Linked DNA regions of Homo sapiens: region 2 is linked to region 1. Evidence: fine-mapped expression QTL. A gene starts in region 1. The other region holds a variant in brackets. All regions are shown on one strand. Distances are between the middles of the regions. Region 1 holds the start of POLR1E (RNA polymerase I subunit E). Region 2 overlaps FBXO10 (F-box protein 10).

Region 1 (2,910 bases):
CAGCCTGGGTGACAGAGTGAGACCCTGTCTCAAAAAACAAACTAACAACAAACGTTGGGACAATGGGTGAACTTAAATGGGATGTGAGGATTACATGGTGGTAATGTACCAGTGCTAATTTCCTGATTCTTTTCTGTTTAATTTTTTTTTTTTTTTTTGTCGCCCAGGCTAGAGTGCAGTGGCACCATCACAGCTCACTGCAGCCTCTGCCTCCTAGGCTCAAGCAATCCTCCCACCTCAGCCTCCCGAGTAGCTGGGACGACACGCGTGCGCCACCACACATGGCTAATATTATTTTTTGTAGAGACAGGGTCTTGTTATGTTGCCCAGCCTGGTCTCAAACTCCTGGAATCAAGGGATAGAACTGCCTCTCCCTCCCAAAGTGCTGGGATTGCAGGCGTGAACCACTGCGCCCGGCAATTTGCTGATTCTGATGGCTGTGTTGTTATTTAGGGAATGTCTGTAGGAAATACTATAGTCTTCAGGGTTGAAAGGGTATCAGGTTGACAACTTACTCTAAATGGTTCAGGGCAAAAACATTTCTTGCAGTGTTTCTTTACGTTTGAGATTGGGTAATTAGAAAAGCGTGACAAGTGCTCAGGCAAAGGGGCATGCAGGCTTTAGGGTTATTCCTAGGATCCTGGGTGTTGGAGGCGGGTGTTGAGGGTGTGTGGAAGGAAAAGAGTCTTGAAAGAAGGTGATTTGGAAGACAGAGGGGAGTCAACCGGAGTTCTTGCCCTTCAATAGTACGCATCTTTGGGCAAAGGGGGCCTCGGCCAGCGTCCATGCTTAAAGGCCCTGCTTTCGCCTTCTTTCTGCTCTGAAAACTCCCCGTGCAGAAGAAGGGTTGAATCCGCAGTGAAAAAGGGACATGTCCATCAGCTCGGACTCCCTCTTCTATTCCAGTCCAGAATCTCCTGCCCAAAGGCTCCGGGGTTGGCTGGGCTTCTGTTCCATCACCTCAGTGTTGATTGGGCCACAGGTGTGCACGCCACAGCCCATGGCGGGGAGCTGTTTGTCGGACTGTGGACAAAGTTTGTACCTAGAGCTGGATGTCCACGTGGGTGGGTGGGAAGCCCTAGAGAGGGGCGGCTATTCGCCAGCGGCCACATTTAGTTGGGGCTCAAGCAGTTCCTGTCAGAGAATTCTAAATTTGAACTTGGTCCTTCAGGTCTTGGGAAGATGAGTTTGTCACGGTAGGAGAGAGAGACGACACTCTCTTTAGAAGGTGCTGAGCCGGAAGAAGGCTCATAGCAAGCTTAGGCTGAAGCCTTTGGCGCCTCGGGCTCTGGACCTACAAAACCCAGAGTGCACGCGAGCGCTGAGCCAATCAGGTGCTGCGCCTCGGCCAGTCAAGCGGGTGTGTGGCACCTTGTGGGCGGAGACCACGCCTCTCTACGCGGGGGGCGGGGACACGCGGCTCGCGCGCTGTGGGCGGTGCCCGGCGGGGCCACGCCTTTTCCGGCCCGCAGCGCGGCCTGGGCTCCCGCGTGTTTAAAAGTGCGCTTGTGGCTGCTGCTGTCTTAACTCCTGTGCTTGGCGGACAGACAGGCGAGATGGCGGCGGAGGTGTTGCCGAGTGCGAGGTGGCAGTATTGTGGGGCGCCCGACGGGAGCCAGAGAGCTGTACTGGGTAAAGACTGCGGAGCTGGAGCAGTGCTCCTCTAACCCTCTCCCCTTCCGTCTCGGTACCTCAGCTGTCCTCTCGCCCTCCGTTGGGCTTCTCCCCAGCGGGGCCGGGACCCCTCTAGTCTCCACCACTCCCCTGGGCTCTGTCAGGGCTCCCCTGTCCGTCTTTCTGTCACTACCTCCCAGCCAGATTGGGACATCCCACTCACCCGCTCCCCAGAGCTGTGTCCAGGACCCTGCTGACCCCCTCACCCACCAGGTCTCCCGCCTCCCCCATTTCCCTCTCTTCACTGGGCAGGGGTTCCTTCTGTCACTTTAGGTATGTACCAGGCCTCTGCTGTCAGCCTCCTTCCGCGAGACATTCCCTCCTGTCACAGCCCCTCCCCAGGGTTCTCCCACCTCCCTACCTCCTCTTCTCAGCTGGCCCCGGATCTCCTCCAGTTCCCTTTGGGTCAGGACCCGAGCTTCCTTGCCATCCCCATTCTGACACTCCCTCCCAGTGACAGTCTAGTCCCACCGTACATTGTGTGGTACATTGTGTGGCCTTCTGCTCTCATCTCATTCTTGGGCTGCACTCTTACAGTCCAGTTCTCCAACGGGAAGCTACAGAGTCCAGGCAACATGCGCTTTACCTTGTATGAGAACAAAGATTCCACCAACCCCAGGAAGAGGAATCAACGGATCCTGGTAAGTGAAGCAGTTGCCAGCTGTCTCCACTCTGCAGGGCTCAGAAGGCCCCTGGGAGTGGGTGGATGTGGGAGGGAGTGAGGGGAGAAAAAGGGGAGTAGTAGCAAATGGAGCTTTGAAGAACTCTGATGCCCAGCAGCCTGGGATGTGGGGACAGGCTCCATCTTTCATTCATTTGTTCTTTCAACAAGCATTTATGGAACCTGCCCCTCTGCATCCCTGTGCTGCAAGCTTCTAGGAAAACAGCCAAATCAGGCCTAGCCCCACTCAGAGTTCATACTCTAGAGCAGGGTTTCTCAACCTCAGGACTATTGACTTTTTGGGCCAATAATTCTTTGCTGTGGGGGCAGCATCCCTAGTCTCTACTCATTAGATGCCAGTAGCACCAGAGTGGATTTCCCTGGATTGAGAACCTCTGCTCTAGAGAGATGAGAACTGGCTGTGAGGGACACTTTTACACAAAGCTCTGAGGCCACGTGGGGAAGAGTACAGGGCAGAGTGAGCTCAGTGGGAGGAGAGGTCTCTGCCAGAATGCCTTCCTTGGTGAGGTCATGTTGGAGCTGAGCCTTGAAGGCTGGAATGAGGGTTTGGCAGT
Region 2 (2,910 bases), 29 kb after region 1:
CAAGTAGCTGGGATTATAGGTGTGTGCCACGGTGCCAGCTTTTCCTCTTTCATTTCTTTTCAGCTCTATGACCACAAATGTTTATAGAAGCTTTATTCATAATCACCAAAAACTAGAAACTACCTAAATACGCTTCAGCTGATGAGTGAATAAACTGTGCAGTACACCCATACAGGGGAAGACTACTCAGCAATTGAAAGGAATGAACGCCTTACATGCAACACCATGAATGAATCTCCAGCATGTTAGGCTAAGTGAAAGAAGCCAGACTCAAAAGACTACATACTGCAGGATTTCTGGGTTTTTTTTGTTTTTACTTTTATTTTTTAATATATATATATATTTTTTCCGAGACGGAGTCTTGCTCTGTTACCCAGGCTGGAGTGCAGTAGTGTGATCTGGGTTCACTGCAACCTCTTCCTCCCAGGTTCGAGTGATCCTCCTGGCTCAGCCTCCCGAGTAGCTGGGACTACAGTTGCGTGCCATGATGCCCAGCTAATTTTTGTATTTTTAGTAGAGATGGGGTTTCACCATGTTGGCCAGGCTGGTCTCGAAATCCCGACCTCAGGTGATCCACCCACCTCGGCCTCCCAAAGTGCTGGGATTACAGGCGTGAGCCACCGCACCCGGCCACGATTTCTTTTATATGACATTTGGGAAAATGCAAATCTATGGGGGATAGAAGTTGGTGGGTTTCCAGTCACCCAAACTCTTGTAGAGAGCATGGAGGGCCAGGGAAAATAAAATGATAGTGAAGCTGTGGTCAGAGTTTTCTGATGCTTGAGTTACAAGGAACCAACTTTACACACTAAGTCTCCATTTGCTTAAGGCAACACATTGTCTTATATGTATTTTTATGATAATGATGTTACAATGAAAGGACTGGAAAGGTGTGGACGGAATCAGAGGTTGGCTACTAGCATGTGAATAAAAAGGCCTAAGCTATGTTGGGAGGACTGTATGTATTTGAGTTTGGCAGCAGGGGAGCACTACTGAAAAGGAGTGATGAAATGAGAGGCTGGAAAAGACAATTAGGACCTCAGGGTACACAGCGGACAATACCAGAGCTGGCATTGGCAAAGTCCGGGCTGTATCCTGTACCCTGGGGTCTCCAAAGGGAAGGAGGAGGTGGATCCCAGGGAGTCCACAATATAATCTGCTGGGATATTGGAAGAAAATACTAGAATTTTGGTTTTTTTTAACTGTATACTTTAAAATTTTCTATTTTGGGGATAGTTTATAATGTAAATAATATACTGCTAGAATACACATATATAAGTTATAAATAGGTATACCGGTGAGGCGCGGTGGCTCACACCTGTAATCTCAATACTTTGGGAGGCCAAGGCGGGTGGATCACCTGAGGTCAGGAGTTCGAGACCAGCCTGGTCAACATGGCGAAACTGTCTCTACTAAAAACACAAAAATCAGCCGGGAGTGGTGGTGGGCGCCTGTAATCCCAGCTGCTCAGGAGGCTGAGGCAGGAGGATCGCTTGAATCTGGGAGGAAGAGGTTGCAGTGAGCCAAGATCGCACCACTGCACTGCAGCCTGGGCAACAGAGTGAGACTTGGTCTCTAAATAAATAAATAAATAATTAGGTATACCTACATC[G/A]GGGGGTTTCTTCAAAGAATATTTTTTCCCGAGAGTGTGTGTAATACAAAAAGTATGGAGATCATTACAACAGAACATGAAGATCCATGAGAGGTTTTAAACCATGGATGTGATGTGACTGACCAGAGCTCTCACTTAGAAAGATTAACCTGGCAGGATGCATGGGACAACCTCCAGAGTGGAGCAGGGGGTGGCCACGGGCAGGGAGACTGGCAGGAGGCTGCTGCAGGGGGACAGGTGACATTGGCGGTGCAGGAGTGATACCAACTACAGCAAATATCAGTATGATTTTACAACCAGAATGTGAAAGCGAAAGCACGGACCAATCAGAACACAGCCCAAGCAGAAGCAACTGGAACAGCTGTGCATTGCAGTAACACAGGCGGTACAGGTTAGGGTGAGCGGTGCTGAGACCTGAATTAGGATGGGGGCAGTTGGGGAAGAGGAGGTGCTGGAAAAAGGAACATTTTAGAAGCAGAATCAACAAGACCTGGTGACTGACTGACTGGACATCTTCGGATTAGGGAGAAAAAGGCAGCAGAAGTTTTGTTGTCAGAACACTGAGTGGATGGTGATGTCGCTGAAATGGAGAACGTGAAAGGACAGACAGGTTTGAGGAAGATGGGTGGCGGCAATTGTGATACATTGAGGCAGAGTGACTAAAGGACAGCAGCAGCATCAACTAACATTTTTACAGCCCCTCAGAGATTCAGCCAGATAGTGTGATCTTATTAAATGGATTTTACTAAGGCTCGAAGATGTGAAGTAAGTTGCCCAAGGTCACACAGCCAGTAACCTGCAGAGCTGAGATCTGAAACCACATACCCCTGACTCTTAAAAAGCTTGTTCCCTCCTGGGGAGTCCTCAGCCCGGGCCTGACATAGAGCCAGGCACAGGCCTTTTTCTGACTGGAGTCGACAGCTGGCAGGGTTGCAGGGAGCCCGGGCAGCCACAATCCCTGGGTGTGGGCCTGGCTTCTTCAGGGAGCTTACTGTGGCTCTAGAGGACTCGTTCAGGCAACCCCAAGCACTCACTTTTTCTTGAAGACCAGGAACTTGTTGTTTTGCATGATGCATTCTCGGTTGTTTGAGATCTGCTGAAAGATGGTCTTACTGGTTTTGCCCTGGAAGATGATGTTTTCCTGCACCAGGGCCTTGGCACGGCCCCGCACGGCGATGCCGTAGGCCCGGAACGAGTGGATCCGGTTCTTTATTACCTGGGAGAGGCAGCCAGAGATTGTCACACCTCAGGGATTCACAGACTGAGTGGGAGAGCTGGGCAAGTGAATTATCAGTTCT

The links. PIP is the estimated chance that this variant, and not a neighbour inherited with it, causes the effect.
Region 2: its variant is the best candidate, but not a certain one, in a credible set for the expression of POLR1E in monocytes (TOPMed, PIP 0.84).

What each region holds. Positions count from the first base shown.
Region 1 is chr9:37,484,492-37,487,401 of GRCh38, forward strand. It overlaps POLR1E (RNA polymerase I subunit E), which reads left to right and starts at 1,457. Exons shown (of 12, transcript NM_022490.4): 1 at 1,457-1,632; 2 at 2,212-2,315. The coding sequence starts at 1,557. RefSeq lists an enhancer at 922-1,513 and a silencer at 1,255-1,584.
Region 2 is chr9:37,513,258-37,516,167 of GRCh38, forward strand. It overlaps FBXO10 (F-box protein 10), which reads right to left. Exons shown (of 11, transcript NM_012166.3): 10 at 2,647-2,828. Among named protein-coding and RNA genes, the nearest start is that of POLR1E, 29 kb to the left of the region's middle. RefSeq lists an enhancer at 2,141-2,642. The variant G/A (reference allele first, on the strand shown) is at 1,613.